Homo sapiens: one gene and its partner. The protein of the gene in region 1 purifies or fractionates together with the protein of each later gene. This does not show direct contact. Each region holds a gene or a part of one and is shown in the gene's direction. Other genes may lie near its edges. The genes, in order: ANXA7 and MOB1A.

Region 1 (8,262 bases):
GCTTGTATTTGTGATTAAATAGGATTTAATCAAAGATCTCAAATCAGAGTTAAGTGGAAATATGGAAGAACTGATCCTGGCCCTCTTCATGCCTCCTACGTATTACGATGCCTGGAGCTTACGGAAAGCAATGCAGGTACTACTATATGTCATTTATTATGAATATTTTGTCCTATTTCATATGTAAAACCGTACAAATTATGACAGTTCTGAATTTACAGTGGTAATTAAAGCAATTCTTTATTTCACATCATCCATCTGAATATATAGTTTTTAGTTCTACAGAACAAAGAAATATTTGACGAAGATTTAATTACTTGCAGAAATTTCATTTTTCTTTGTATAATCTTCCCTTCATTTCATGTAGGGAGCAGGAACTCAGGAACGTGTATTGATTGAGATTTTGTGCACAAGAACAAATCAGGAAATCCGAGAAATTGTCAGATGTTATCAGTCAGAATTTGGACGAGACCTTGAAAAGGACATTAGGTCAGATACATCAGGACATTTTGAACGTTTACTTGTGTCCATGTGCCAGGTGAGTATAGTATGAATGCTTGTGCGTTGATAGAGGGAACATACTTTAAAAGCCTTTTGCCAGTGAGCATTCTTTATTCCTTTTAATATTTAGCCACCTTGCAATATTGCCATCTTTAAGAGGGACAACACAGAAACCAGTGTACAGATTTCTTTGTAGTTACTATTGAGATTTATTCCTGTAAATCTGGCTTTTGTAAGGAATTAGAGATTTAACCTCTAAGGTTGTATGGAATCAGAAACCAATTCGAGGCTCTGTGGCTGGGATGGGGATGAAACTGTACATTTGAGCTTATCACTATCCTGCCCATTATGCCCCACCATCAAGTGAAGATGTGCAGGACTGCCATAGAGGTGCTACAGGAAGTGAGGACTATGTGAGGAGACCCAGAAATGCAGAAAAATGTTTTAGGGTTCCCAGTAATAACTGTGATTAGCACCTTCTTTATTTTGATTCCCCAGGTGTGCTGGAGAATTGACAGAAAATACTCCAAATAGGGTATTTGGAATGGCATTAGAAACACACTTAGGGCCAGACATTGTGCCTCACACCTGTAATTCCAGCACTTTTGGAGGCCAAGGCAGGAGGATTGCTTGAGGCCAGGAGTTTGAAGCCAGCTTGGGTACCATAGCAAGAAACCATCTCTATAAAAAATATTTTTAAAAATTAGCCGAACATGGTGGTATGTGCCTGTAGTGCCAGCTATTCAGGAAGTTCAGTGGGAGGATCACTTGAGCCCAGGAGATTGAGGCTGCAGTGAACTGTGATCGCACCACTGCATTCCAGCCTGGGCAATAGAGTGAGATCCTGTCCTTAAAAAAAAGAAAAGAAAAAAAGAAAAGAAGCACACTTAGATGATGAAGGTGTATTTGAAAGAGATTATGTAAATGACTAGCATGCTGATTCAATATCAAGAGTTATTGCCTATTGTGCTAGTGCACAAGATTGGACCATCTGGAGGGATCTAAAGGAGAGGAGGGGCTCTTAAGAGCCAAGGGAGGGGCTGGGTGTGGTGGTTCATGTCTGTAATCCCAGTACTTTGGGAGGCTGAGGCGGGTGGATCACCTGAGGTCAGGAGTTTGAGACCAGCCTGACCAACATGGTGAAACTCCATCTCTACTAAATACAAAAAATTAGCCAGGAGTGGTGGCACCTGTAATCCCAGCTACCTGGGAGGCTGAGGCAGCAGAATCGCTTGAACCCGGGAGGCAGAGGTTGCAGTGAGCTGAGATTGTGCCATTGCACTCCAGCCTGGGTAACAAGAGCAAAACTCCATCTAAAAAAAAAAAAAGGGAGGTAGCTGTGGAAAGGATAGTGGATATGGAAATGAGAAAGCAAAGTAAATGGGTTGAAGGAAATTGAATTTACCTAAATCAGAGTAACAGGAGGGCAGTAGGTTAGGATTTAAAAGAAACAAGAAGGAAAACAGACAATGCTAAAAAATGGCTATTAAGATTTTACATGAGGTGCTGAGTCTCTCTTTATGCAGAGTTCAAGGCCCAGCCCTACCTTTTCCAGGGCATGAGTAGAGGAGTAACTTCCTGAGAAAGTGTGTGTGAATCCAAAGGCAATAATCTGGGAAATTTTTTGTGAGTACCTTTTCCTGTGTTATATTCAGTCGCCCATGTAGAATGTGCCTCTACGTATTCCTTGTGCCAGTTGCTCAGAAGACAGTTCTTCAGCTTCAAGGAGGATTTTTCCATCTTATTCCAAAGATGGTCCCTGAGACTCTAAAAGGCAGCCTTTTCTTGTTTGGGTTTGTCTTTCTGTTTTTGAGAGAAACCAACTGCTCATTAAGCTTAAACTCTTCCTTCCTCCTTCCTTTCTTCCTATTCCAGGGAAGAGTGTGGTATACAAATAGGCACAGTCTAACAGAACATGAGTTATTTGTAGCTGCTTCTGTAAAGCTTATGTGTCATTTTTATGCGTGTATTTATGGTAAATACTTACATATTAAGATTATAATTCGATGGCTGAGTGTGGTGGTGTGAGCTTATAGTCCCAGCTACTCTGGAGGCTGAGGTAGGAGGATCACTTGAACCCAGGAGTTTGAGGCTATGATCATGTCTGCAAATAGCCATTGCACCCCAGCCTGGGCAACATAGTGAAATCGTGTCTCTTAAAAAAAAATATTATACTCAGATGAAGAAAAGAAAGTTTATGAAGCCTCCATATTATATCCTCCCTCCCTCCTGCCCTAGAGTTAAATTTCTTGAGGGCAGAGACCCTGTCTCTCCTGTGTCCCTACCGCTTAACACAGTGCCTGACACAAAGAAAGTGCTTAATGTCTCTTAGTCGCATGAATGAATAAAAAGTAGAACTCAGTACAGTGCATATTGATCTTAAATTCCAGCTAAGAGAGCTGTTTCTTCATTTGAGTGGTAGTTAATATCTCCTAGTAGAGATATTTTTGTTTAAACATTTTGGGTTTAATTTAGCTCCCAAAAGCCCTCATTTTTAACATAACCTCATTAAACCGTGATCTTATATTATAAAATCCAGTTGACAGTATAATAAATTACTAGTTATATTTCCATGCATAGAAATGAAGCATATGCATGACAGACATTATGGATTAATCTTTAATAAATTATCTCTTTAGGCCAGGCCCAGTGGCTTACATCTATAATCCCAGCACTTTAGGAGGCTAAGGCAGGAGGATCACTTAAGCCCAGGAGTTAGAGACCAGCACCTGGGCAACATAGTGAGACATGCTGTCTCTACAAAAAATAAAAAAATTAACCAGGCATGGTCGTTTGTGCCTGTAGTCCCAGCTATCTGGGAGGCTGAGGTGGAAGGATCACTTGAGCCTAGGAGGTTGATACTGCACTCCAGCCTGAGTGACAGAGCAAGACCCTATCTCAAAAAAAAAAGAAATAGTCTCTTTAAATCCAAAAGTGAACTAGATTGGAAAAAAAAAATTTAGTAGAACTATTATTTATTTCTTCCAATTCCTGCCTTTCTCTTTTGCAGGGAAATCGTGATGAGAACCAGAGTATAAACCACCAAATGGCTCAGGAAGATGCTCAGCGTCTCTATCAAGCTGGTGAGGGGAGACTAGGGACCGATGAATCTTGCTTTAACATGATCCTTGCCACAAGAAGCTTTCCTCAGCTGAGAGCTACCATGGAGGCTTATTCTAGGGTATGAGCTTTTCTTTTGAAGATTTGGCTTCTGCTGTAAGATACAAAAATATTTAACCCTTTAATTTTGTTTGCAGATGGCTAATCGAGACTTGTTAAGCAGTGTGAGCCGTGAGTTTTCCGGATATGTAGAAAGTGGTTTGAAGACCATCTGTAAGATATTTTTGTGCTTTGCTTTATTTTCTTTTTAAATGAGTGGGAGCTTTGAATAGTTGTTCCCATTAAATGTTGATAATATAGTCCACGTGGAATCTGCTTAGGCAGTAGCTGATCTAATCCTTTGGGGTTTGTTTTTTGTTGTTTGTTTTCTTTATTGGATAAGCCCCCAGAAACAGTCCTGTGTTTTTACATACAATTTCCTATGAATGGTAGTTCTGTGATCAAACAGGGCTGTTTGGGGATTATTTGGCCTTCATCTGTAGGCCTGTCTTGATAACTGTGCCAGAATACCTGATAGTTGTAGCACTTCCTTTAAAGAGAAAGGGAAAGTCCTGAGGAACTCACAGTGTCACCACGAAGCAGTTTGAGTCCTCAAAACAGATATTTCAGGTACTCAGCCCAGTGAGACTCATTTCCTTTTTGAAGTTAACCAGTTTCTGGTGGTCTAATACACAGATGTCTAACAAAGTGAAAGTTTCATTCTCATGGATATTAGGACTAAGGGGAGTATTAGTAACACTTTGGTATTAACAATGGAATGTTGGGCCAGGGGCAGTAGCTCACACTTGTAGTCCCAGCTACTCAGAAGGCTGAGGTGGGAGGATCACCTGAGTCTGGGAGGCTACAGTCAGCCATGATTGCACCACTGCACTCTAGGCTGGATGACAGAGTGAGAACCTGTCTCAAAAAAAATCAAGGAGAGCATCTGAACACTCTTAACTCACCCCATGTTTCTGTGATGATTACAGAGAAAATAATCAAAGGCAGGCTATAAGTGATAAATGAAGCTGGAGGGGTACACTTCTTGTGAGATCATGATTCCATGTCTCAACCATCTCTAACTTGCAGTGCAGTGTGCCCTGAACCGCCCTGCCTTCTTTGCTGAGAGGCTCTACTATGCTATGAAAGGTGCTGGCACAGATGACTCCACCCTGGTCCGGATTGTGGTCACTCGAAGTGAGGTGAGGCAGGCCTCTCTCTTTTTGTCGGGTCTTACTTGATGTTCAATGTTGATTTCTTAAAAGTTCCCCAGTTGGTTGTCAGTCCCTCAAAAATGATAAGAAAGAGCTCTCTTTGCCACCTAAAAGAGGTGGTATAAAGAACAGAAAATTCACTTTCCTCATGCTGTGGGAGAAGCTTGCATTAGTGAAATAGGCCACTCTACCCTAATGAAGATAATACTAACAGATTTTACAACTTGAGAACGTCAATGGAGAATACAAATTTATGGGAAGTTAGACATTTGTCTTTCGATTTTCATTTTGCTTATATAAAAATTAGATGAAAGGCCTATGTAGATTAATCCTAGTGGATATCAACATTATTTAAATTTAGCATCCTTTATTAATAATAAAACAATTTTTAAAATATTCATAATTGTCTCAAGTATAGCCTCATTTTTAAAAATTGTACTTTATATATTTACTCCACTTACAAAAAATTTTTTTTCTCAGAAGAAATGACATTTGAATTTTTTTTTTTTTTTTTTTTTTTTGAGACATGGTCTCACTCTGTCACCCAGACTGGAGTGCAGTGGCACGATCTCAGCTCACTGCAACCTCCACTTCCTGGGTTCAAGCAATTCTGTCACCTCAGCCTCTCGAGTAGCTGGGACTACAGGTGTGCGCCACCATGCCCAGCTAAGTTTTTGTATTTTTTTGGTAGAGATGGGGTTTCACCATGTTGGCCAGGCTGGTCTCGAACTCCTGACCTCAAGTGATCCACCTGCCTCGGCCTCCCAAAGTGCTGGGATCACAGGCGTGAGCCACCACGCCTGGCCTGAACTTTTAATTGAAAGAAAACATGGCGGGGTGTCGTGGCTTACTCCTGTAATCTCAGCAGTTTGGGAGGCCAAGGCGGGAGGATTGCTTGAGCCCAGGAGTTTGAGACCAGCCTGGGCAACATGGTGAAACCTATTTCTACAAAAAACACACGCGCGCGCACACACACACACACACACACACACACGCCGGGGCGTGGTAGCCTGGGCAACATGGTGAAACCTATTTATACAAAAAATACACACACACACACACACACACACACGGTGAAACCTATTTATACAAAAAATACACACACACACACACACACACACACACCCACACCCACCCCCCGGCATGGTAGTCCCAGCTACCCAGAATGTTGAGGTGGAAGGATCACCTGAGCCTGGAAGGTCAAGGCTGCAGTGAGCCGTGATCGCACCACTACACTCCAGCCTTGGTGACAGAGACCCTGTGTCAAAAAAATACCCTAAATTATTATTATTATTGCGTGTTTTTTTTTTTTTTTTTTTTTTTTTTTTTGAGATGGAGTCTCGCTCTGTCACCCAGGCTGAAATACAGTGGCATAATCTCGGCTTACTGCAACCTCTGCCTCCCGGGTTCAAGTGATTCTCCTGCCTCAGCCTCCTGAGTAGCTGGGATTACAGGTGCGTGCCACCATGCCTGGCTAATTTTTTTGTGTTTTTAGTAGAGACTGGGTTTCACCATGTTGGTCAGGCTGGTCTCGAACTCCTGACCTGATGATCCGTCTGCCTCGGCCTCCCAAAGTGCTGGGATTATAGGCATGAGCCACCACACCCGGCCAAAAACCCTAAATTATACTAAAGAAGGTAGATTATTTTTAAAGAAAACAACCAGAATATGGTATTTTGAAAAAAACTTTGTTCTTTAACTTAAATTTTCAAAGCAGGATGTTTTAAGTTGTGATAAAATATACATAACATAAAAATTTACCATTTTTAAGTAGCAGTAAGTACATTCACATTGTTATGCAACCATCATTACCATTCACCTTCAGATGTTTTTTCAACTTGCAAAACTGAAAATCCATACTCCTTAAACAGTAACTCCCCATTCTCCTTTCTCCCAACTGCTGGCAACAAACCATGTGACTTTCTGTGCCTGTGTTTGACTACTCTAGGTACGTCATATTGGTGGAATCATACAATATTTGTCTTTTTGTGAGTGTTGTCTTTTACTTAGCATAGCGTCCTCAAGGTTTATTCATGTTATAGCATGTCAGAATTTCCTTCCTTTTGAGACTGAGTAATTAAATAGTCTATTGTACGTGTATCCCACCTTTTGGTTTTTTTTTTAATTCATCTGTGACACTTGGTTTGTTTCTGCCTGAATAATGCTGCTATGAACATGGATGTACAAATATCTGTTCAAGTCTACTTTCACTTATTTTGAATATACCCAGAAGTGGAATTTCTAGGTCATATTGTAATTCTTTGGAAGTGTTTTTGTTTTGCTTTGAGGAATTAACCATATTAGTTTCCACAGCAGCTGCACCCTTTTACTTTTCCATCAACCTGTGTACAAGTGTTCCCATTTCATGGCATCCTTGCCAATACTTACTATTTTTTTGGTTTTGATAATAGCCATCCTATCAAATGTTTTTAAATGACTAATATCTTTGGAATAATAGATGAAACTAGTACTACCCTGACCAAGTATTTTACAGAGCTGTGAATCAGACCTTCATTGGGTAGTGCTAGCATTGGTATGAGTGCCAGCCATAAAATGTCAGTCACTTGGTGTTTTCCCCCCCAAGTTTTGATTATTATTAAGATCTTATTATTTAAAAAGAATTTTAAGAAATGTCAGTTGTCACAGATGTTTTTCTGACAGAAATATTATTTCTTATGCAGATTGACCTTGTACAAATAAAACAGATGTTCGCTCAGATGTATCAGAAGACTCTGGGCACAATGATTGCAGGTGACACGAGTGGAGATTACCGAAGACTTCTTCTGGCTATTGTGGGCCAGTAGGAGGGATTTTTTTTTTTTTAATGAAAAAAAATTTCTATTCATAGCTTATCCTTCAGAGCAATGACCTGCATGCAGCAATATCAAACATCAGCTAACCGAAAGAGCTTTCTGTCAAGGACCGTATCAGGGTAATGTGCTTGGTTTGCACATGTTGTTATTGCCTTAATTCTAATTTTATTTTGTTCTCTACATACAATCAATGTAAAGCCATATCACAATGATACAGTAATATTGCAATGTTTGTAAACCTTCATTCTTACTAGTTTCATTCTAATCAAGATGTCAAATTGAATAAAAATCACAGCAATCTCTGATTCTGTGTAATAATATTGAATAATTTTTTAGAAGGTTACTGAAAGCTCTGCCTTCCGGAATCCCTCTAAGTCTGCTTGATAGAGTGGATAGTGTGTTAAAACTGTGTACTTTAAAAAAAAATTCAACCTTTACATCTAGAATAATTTGCATCTCATTTTGCCTAAATTGGTTCTGTATTCATAAACACTTTCCACATAGAAAATAGATTAGTATTACCTGTGGCACCTTTTAAGAAAGGGTCAAATGTTTATATGCTTAAGATACATAGCCTACTTTTTTTTCGCAGTTGTTTTCTTTTTTTAAATTGAGTTATGACAAATAAAAAATTG
Region 2 (8,262 bases), on another chromosome or scaffold:
ACTCATTAAAGTCTCTGCTTATGGAAGGTAAATAATTCTTTTGATTTATCCTCTTTTCTCTCTTTTTTGTTTGGAGACAGGGTCTCACTCTGTCACCCAGGCTGGAGGGCAGTGGCACAGTCTCGGCTCTACTGCAACCTCCACTTCCTGGGTTGAAGCGATTCTCGTGCCTCAGCCTCCAAGTAGCTGGGACTACAGGCGCCCACCACCACACCTGGCTAGTTTTTGTAGTTTTAGGTAGAGACAGGGTTTCACCATGTTGGCCAGGCTGGTCTCGAACTCCTGACCTCAAGTGATTCACCCACTTTGGCCTCCCAAAGTGCTGGAATTACAGGCATGAGCCACCATGCCTGGCTTTTTTCTCACTTTCTTGTTCTTAAATAATTCATTCTGATCCACCACCTCTTAATCCCACTCCCCTGCCATTAGGCTATTATCTGCATCTTACTTTTGCCAGTTATTTAGTCTCAGACAGAACTGTTTATCATTAATTTTTTACTAATATATGCACATTATTAATATCCTTTTATTAGAAAGATGCCCATTTATACATTCTGATAAAAAAAGATGTTTGATTTTGAAATCTACTTTTTTTTTTGAGACAGACTCTCACTCTGTTGCCCAGGCTAGAGTGCAGTGGTGCAGTTACAGCTCACTGTGGACTTGACCTCCCAGGCGCAAGTGGTCCTTCTACATCAGCCACTTGAGTAGCTGAGACCACAGGCACGTGTGCCACCACGCCCAGCTAATTTTCAATTTTTTGTAGACACGAGGTCTCACTGTGTTGCCCAGACTGGTCTCAAACTTCTAGGCCCAAGCAACCTTTCTGCTTCAGTCTCCCAAAGAGCTTGAGATTACAGGCATGAGCCACTGCACCTGGCCAGAATACTGCTTTTTTTTTTTTTTGAGGCGGAGTCTCACTCTGTTGCCCAGGCTGGAGTGCAGTGGCATGATCTCAGCACACTGCAAGCTCCGCCTCCCGGGTTCACGCCATTCTGCCATTCTCCTGTCTCAGCCTCCCGAGTAGCTGGGACTACAGGTGCCGCCACCACGCCTGGCTAATTTTTGTATTTTTAGTAGAGACAGGGTTTCACTGTGTTAGCCAGGATGGTCTCGATCTCCTGACCTCATGATCCGCCCGCCTCGGCCTCCCAAAGTGCTGGGATTACAGGCATGAGCCACTGCACCCGGCCAGAAATCTGCTTTTTCAATACATGAATACAAGATCCTGCCCAGGAAAACATGCCTGTAAGCTCCAGGATAATGTCTGAAAAGTCACGTTAATGAGGACTGGGGTGGTGGTGGAGAATAACCACAAACATCAGCAAAATAAGTTTCAGGTTATTGAGAACTGGCTGGGAAAAAAATGCAAGGAAAGAGTGTTTTAAGCCTTTGTTTTCTGAAAAATTGAAAAAAAGAATGTGTTTCAAGAGTAGCGTTGTGGAACAGGCCTTTAAGGCCAACTAATGTAGGTTTATTTTTATTTTTATTTTTTGAGATGGAGTCTCACTCTGCCGCCCAGACTGGAGTGCAGTGGCGGCAATCTTGGCTCACTGCAACCTCCGCCTCCTGGGTTCAAGCGATTCTTCTGCCTCAGCCATTTGAGTAGCTAGGATTACAGGCCTTAGTCACCACGTCTGGCTAATTTTTGTATTTTTAGTAGAGACAGGGTTTCACCATGTTGGTCAGGCTGGTCTCGAACTCCTGACCTGTCTGTCCCTGTTTTCTAATGGACTTTGATATTGTCAGCCAAAATTCTCAGGAATGTAACCAGTTGGATCCCCATCTCCACTGCTTGGAAGGATACCAAACTCTACCCCCGTTGTTTTCTAAAAAGAGATTTCTTTTTTTTTTTGAGACGGAGTCTCGCTCTGTCACCCAGGCTGGAGTGCAGTGGCGCGATCTCGGCTCACTGCAACCTCCACCTCCCGGGTTCAAGCAATTCTCTGCCTCAGCCTCCCGAGTAGCTGGGATTACAGTTGCCTGCCACCACCCCTGGCTAATTTTTGTATTTTTAGTAGAGATGGGGTTTCACCATGTTGGCCAAGCTGGTCTCTTTGGCCAGGCTGGTCTTGACCTCCTGACCTCGTGATCTGCCCCCCTCGGCCTCCCAAAGTGCTGGGATTACAGGCGTGAGCCACTGTGCCCGGCTGCCTTTTTATTTTGCTTAGGAGAGTTTCCAGTCCTCATTGAGAGAGTGCGTATGTATGTAATTTCTTCTTTTTTTTCCTAAGGGATGAGGTTTTACCTTGTTGCTCAGGCTTATCTTGAACTCAGGCTTATGAGCTCAGGCAATCTGTCCACTACGGCCTCTCAACGTGCTGGATTACAGGCACGAGCCACCACACGGAGCCAGTGTAATTTCTTTAGAGTTACAAATTACAAAGTAAAAATATTTATGATCAAAATACTTACTCTTGTTGCATTTAATTTCAGAAAGAAACTCTCTAATATTAAAGAACTAAATCCCAGTACTTTGGGAAGCCAAGGCAGGCAGATCACTTGAGGCCAGGAATTCGAGACCAGGCTGGCCAACATGGCAAAAACCCATCTGTACTAAAAATACAAAAATCAGCCAGGTGTAGTAGTGCACGCCTGTAGTCCCAGCTACTTTGGAGGCTGAGGTGGGCAGATTGCTTAAGCCTGGGAGGTGGAGGTAACAATGAACCATGATCATGCTACTGAACTCCAGCCTGGGTGACAGAGTGAGGCTCAGTCTCCGGGGTGGGGGGGGGGACAAAAAACAAAAAACTAAAACTACAGGATTTTTGAACTTTGATTTAGCAGCATCTTACATAATTTGATACCTGTGCCTAAGGCAGTCAGAAAAAAGTGTGGTACTTTGTGAGGATTGGGGTTTGGGTTTTCATTTCCTTGGCTTTAAAAAATATATACAGAGGTAGGTTTGTGTGTATTTATGAATGTGTGTGTTTATATGTTGCAGGTGCTCATGGCAGTGTGTAAACTTTCTGCTGTTAGGCTGGGCATGCCTGTAATCCTAGCACTTTAAGAGGTTGAGGCGGGCAGATTGCTTGAGCTCAGGAGTTCAAGACCAGCCTGGGCAACATGGCAAAACCCCATCTCTACAAAAAATACAAAAAATTAGCTGGGCATGGTGGCGTGTAGTGCAGGTTATTTGGGGGGCCAAGGTGGGAGGATCAGTTGAGCCCAGGAGGTCGAGGCTGCAGTGAGCTGAGATTGCACCACTGCCTGAGTGACAAAGTGAGACCCTGTCACAAATAAACAACTTTCTACTGTTAGATAACCAAATAATTGTTTCATATGTGTATTTAATTGCAGGTGTCCCATTTCCCAAAAACTTTATGTCTGTGGCAAAGACTATTCTAAAGCGTCTGTTCAGGGTTTATGCCCATATTTATCACCAGCACTTTGATTCTGTGATGCAGCTGCAAGAGGAGGCCCACCTCAACACCTCCTTTAAGCACTTTATTTTCTTTGTTCAGGTAAGTTGATCCATGTTGATTTCTGTGTCCTGTGACTTGGACTTATTTGGATTGGGAACTTCAACAAAGAGCTGTGTGTCTTAGTTATAGATGTAGAGCCAATTACAGGCAAGCTTCTCTTTTCTGTTTTGTTCTCTTTTCCACATTATTTATTTTATTGATGTGTGCAGCAGTATAAAAAGGTATCACCCCCATTTGGGCCTTCTGCCTCTGGCCACCCTAGGTCTGTGGTTAGGATTATCCATTCAGGGTTGTGGCCTGTTGCTTTGTGGACCCTTAGTCAGAATTGGAACTTTTTTTTTTTTTTTTTTTGAGACAGGGTCTCACTCTGTGGCCCAGGCTAGAGTGCAATGGCGTGATCTTGGCTCACTGCAACCTCCGCCTCCTGGGTTCAAGTGATTCTCCTGCCTCGGCCTCCCGAATAGCTGTGATTACAGGTGCCCACCACCACCCCCAACTAATTTTTGTATTTTTAGTAGAGACGGGGTTTCCCATGTTGGCCAGGCTGGTCTCGAACTCCTGATCCACCCACCTCGGCCTCCCAAAGTGCTGGAATTACAGGCCTGAGCCACAGCACCCGGCCAGAATTGGAACTTTAAAAAATCAAAATAATTCACATTGTTTGAAAAAGATATCAAAGAATTGGTATGCCTTTAGCCTAACTTTAGAGATACTTATATTTTGCATATTGAATTACATATACATGTCTGTCTAGATATTTTATGATGAAAAAACCTGGTAGCTTTATAGTAGATACTGTGTATTATAGTTTTGTGTACTGTACCATGCTCTTCCTGATCTTCCTTCTCAGATTGTTGCATAAAAGGTCTACTGGCCCTTTATCAAAAATTCAGTTTGTAGTTTTCAGGTAGTTTCTTTTTTTTTTTTCCCCCCTCTTTTTTTTTTTTTTGGAGACAGAGTCTTGCTCTGTCGCCCAGACTGGAGTGCAGTGGCACGATCTCGGCTAACTGCAACCTTTGCCTCCTGGGTTCAAGCAGTTCTCCTGCCTCAGCCTCCTCAGTAGCTGGGATTATAGGCACCTGCCACCACGCCCGGCTAATTTTTATGTTTACTAGAAATGGGGTTTCACCATGTTGGCTAGGCTGATCTCGAACTCCTGACCTCAAATGATCCACCCACCTTGTCCTCCCAAAATGCTGGGATTACAGGCATGAGCCACCATGCCCGGCCTTTTTCGGGTAATTTTAATGTAAATTTAAATATATATACAGTTTTGATTTTAATGTTTAACACAATGAGGATCATACTGATACCTAGAGTTGGTTCTTTAATAAGTCTCCCATTGTAAAAATATGGGAAAAAACAAACTCCCTTTATCCTACTATACTCTCACCACACAGAACGCTTCTGTGACCAAACATGGGGACTGTCCCTCACACACCAAGCAAGTGATCATTTCTACAGTGGACACCAGATGAATGTCCTATAATTTGATTCAATTTTGATAATGTCTATCTGGAGGTAGCATCAGATCCTACAAGTTTGAGAGCTCAGTCCCACAAGACTGCCCCCCATTTGGGATATCAATCAAAAGTAATACATTGTCACCTATACCTCTGACTATAAACCAGGGTTCCCACAACCCCCTCCTTGGGTTTGATTAGTTTGCTAGAGCCGCTTATAGAACTCAGGGAAATACTTATCTCTACCTGTTTATTATGAAAGATGTTAACAAAAGATACAGATGAACAGCCAGATGGAAGAGATGTGTAGGGCCAAAGGAGAAGGGGCTTCCATGCTCTCTCCAGGCATGCCATGCTCCAGGAACCTCCACGTGTTCAGCTATCTGGAAGCTCTCCTGAGCCCTGTTTTTTGTGTTTTTATGGAGGCTTCATTACTTGCCCATGATTGATTAAATAATTGGCCATTGATGATCAACTCAACCTTCAGCCAGCCCTTTCCCCTCCCCAGAGGCTGTGATCTGGGAAGGGGAGAGGGCTGGCTGAAGGTTGACCAGTTCCCATCCTGAAGCTTTATAGGAGCCTCCAGCCACCAGTCATCTCATTAGCATACAAGATACTCTTAGCACTCTGGTGATTCCAACAAGGGTTTTAGGAGCTGTGTGTAAAGAAAAAGGAAGACCAAATACTTATATCACAATATCATACCTATATTTTTAAAAAGAGAGGGCTGGACGTGGTGGCTTACCCCTGTAATCCTAGCACTTTGGGATTTGGGATGCCAAGGTGGGCAGATCACTTGAGGCCAAAGTTCAGTACCAGCCTTGGCAACATAGACCACATCTGTACAAAAAAGAAAAAAAAAAGAAAAAGAATAAATGCCTACTTTAAAATGTTCACAGAGGTTATTTCATCATTCTTTTGGACTTCAGAAAACTAGAGTTGGGAATCCCTTCTCCAAAAGACATTTACAGAGTTTCAGTTTTAGATCCATTTTTAATTGTTATTTTTCTTCTCTTTTTAGGAGTTTAATCTGATTGATAGGCGTGAGCTGGCACCTCTTCAAGAATTAATAGAGAAACTTGGATCAAAAGACAGATAAATGTTTCTTCTAGAACACAGTTACCCCCTTGCTTCATCTATTGCTAGAACTATCTCATTGCTATCTGTTATAGACTAGTGATACAAACTTTAAGAAAACAGGATAAAAAGATACCCATTGCCTGTGTCTACTGATAAAATTATCCCAAAGGTAGGTTGGTGTGATAGTTTCCGAGTAAGACCTTAAGGACACAGCCAAATCTTAAGTACTGTGTGACCACTCTTGTTGTTATCACATAGTCATACTTGGTTGTAATATGTGATGGTTAACCTGTAGCTTATAAATTTACTTATTATTCTTTTACTCATTTACTCAGTCATTTCTTTACAAGAAAATGATTGAATCTGTTTTAGGTGACAGCACAATGGACATTAAGAATTTCCATCAATAATTTATGAATAAGTTTCCAGAACAAATTTCCTAATAACACAATCAGATTGGTTTTATTCTTTTATTTTACGAATAAAAAATGTATTTTTCAGTATCCTTGAGATTTAGAACATCTGTGTCACTTCAGATAACATTTTAGTTTCAAGTTTGTATGGTAGTGTTTTTATAGATAAGATACGTCTATTTTTTCAAAATTCATGATTGCAGTTTAAATCATCATATGACGTGTGGGTGGGAGCAACCAAAGTTATTTTTACAGGGACTTTATTTTTTGATCTTTATTTGAGATTGTTTTCATATCTATCTAAATTATTAGGAGTGTGTGTATCAGAAGTAATTTTTTAATGTCTTCTAAGGATGGTCTTCCAGGCTTTTAAACTGAAAAGCTTAATTCAGATAGTAGCTTTTGGCTGAGAAAAGGAATCCAAAATATTAATAAATTTAGATCTCAAAACCACTATTTTTATTATTTCATTATTTTTCAGAGGCCTTAAAATTCTGGATAAGAGAATGGAGGAAAATACTCAGAGTACTTGATTATTTTATTTCCTTTTATTAAAAAATTACTTCTATGTTTTTATTGTCTCTTGAGCCTTAGTTAAGAGTAGTGTAGAAATGCATGAACTTCATCCTAATAAGGATAAAACTTAAGGAAAACCACAATAAACCATGAAGGTGTACACATCTTATAACACAGATAAAGTTTTGGTGTGCTACCTATTCTTGAGAGAGTGAGTGAGTGTATGTGTTTAAAGGAAACAAAATGGGAGAAATAAGTTTTAAAAAAATCCTCATTTTGTTAATATTCAAAAGATGGACTGAGCTTCCACTTGGGTTTTATCTTGTTTTAATTGTTTTTGTATCAAAACTTGAAATTCCTCTATTTCTATTGGGATATAAAAGCCTTCCCCTTCAGTGAAGAAAACATTTATTTTTTATTTGATTCCTAGGATTTAGTAAACTCTAGCTGTCTATTTAAAATGTACTGAGGCACAACAAGTATTATACTGGAAGACTTGCCAAACTGGCAAAGCTTTAAGTTCATCAGCATTCTATGTGGTTCAGAGCTGTGATTTTTGCAAAGTATTTTACCAACCTCCTCGATGGCTTTGATAAAGGTTAGATTTGATGTTTTTTTTTAGATTTATTTTTCTTACTCCACTAAACTATAAAGAAAATAATTACTTAGAAACTCCATTTTAAATAATCATTTCCTAGAAATTCTTAAATATATACAGAATTTTAAAGAAAACATTTCATCTGATTTAGTTAGCATCCACATATCATTGAGGAATTAAAGTGTGGGACAGTCATTATTAAAAAAAAGAGAGAAAAGCCCTCTATTAGACATTCCACAATCCATGTTTTAAGCTTATCCAAAGGTCCAAATGTCAGCCATTCTGTATGTTCATGTTGATCATTTGCGAACAAGAAAGCAGGTTTCTAGGTATCACTTAGGATGTGAACTGCCTCTCAACTTTAAACCCTGTTAGCTTTACTTTTTTAAGTCCACAAGTGATGAAACTAGTTTCTCAGCTAGGCTTGTACTTTCCTCATTATTTCTAGTATTTCAAATATTCTCAAACAAAAGAGTTACCACTTTTCTCCATTTATTTTCAGTTATGGAAATGTTCCCTCTCTTCACCACTAAGCTCCAAAGCAAATGAAAGACGATCACATGTCAGGACAGTAGTAAAGGCAGCTTATAAATGGGACATAAATCAGAGATGTGTTGGTATTTTGAGACTCAAGACTGTCCTTTTTTAAAATAAAAATAAAAACATTACCAGGTTCCCAAGCCAATCTGGCTTAACCAACAGTGCACTGAAATATTAGTGTTTACCTCCAAGGCTAGGGAGCCAAGGGGAGGAGGAGAATTGGAGGA

Evidence for each region.
Region 2: the proteins of ANXA7 (region 1) and MOB1A purify together in Homo sapiens (affinity purification with mass spectrometry; 2 studies listed by BioGRID and IntAct, with this or other methods). This does not show direct contact.

The regions. Positions count from the first base shown.
Region 1 is NC_000010.11:73,375,451-73,383,712, reverse strand, and holds part of ANXA7 (annexin A7), read left to right. Parts: intron 1-22; coding exon 23-136; intron 137-367; coding exon 368-538; intron 539-3,511; coding exon 3,512-3,682; intron 3,683-3,758; coding exon 3,759-3,834; intron 3,835-4,689; coding exon 4,690-4,802; intron 4,803-7,495; coding exon 7,496-7,618; 3' UTR 7,619-8,262. UniProt on the Homo sapiens protein: Calcium/phospholipid-binding protein which promotes membrane fusion and is involved in exocytosis.
Region 2 is NC_000002.12:74,154,293-74,162,554, reverse strand, and holds part of MOB1A (MOB kinase activator 1A), read left to right. Parts: intron 1-3,300; coding exon 3,301-3,464; intron 3,465-5,909; coding exon 5,910-5,987; 3' UTR 5,988-8,262. UniProt on the Homo sapiens protein: Activator of LATS1/2 in the Hippo signaling pathway which plays a pivotal role in organ size control and tumor suppression by restricting proliferation and promoting apoptosis.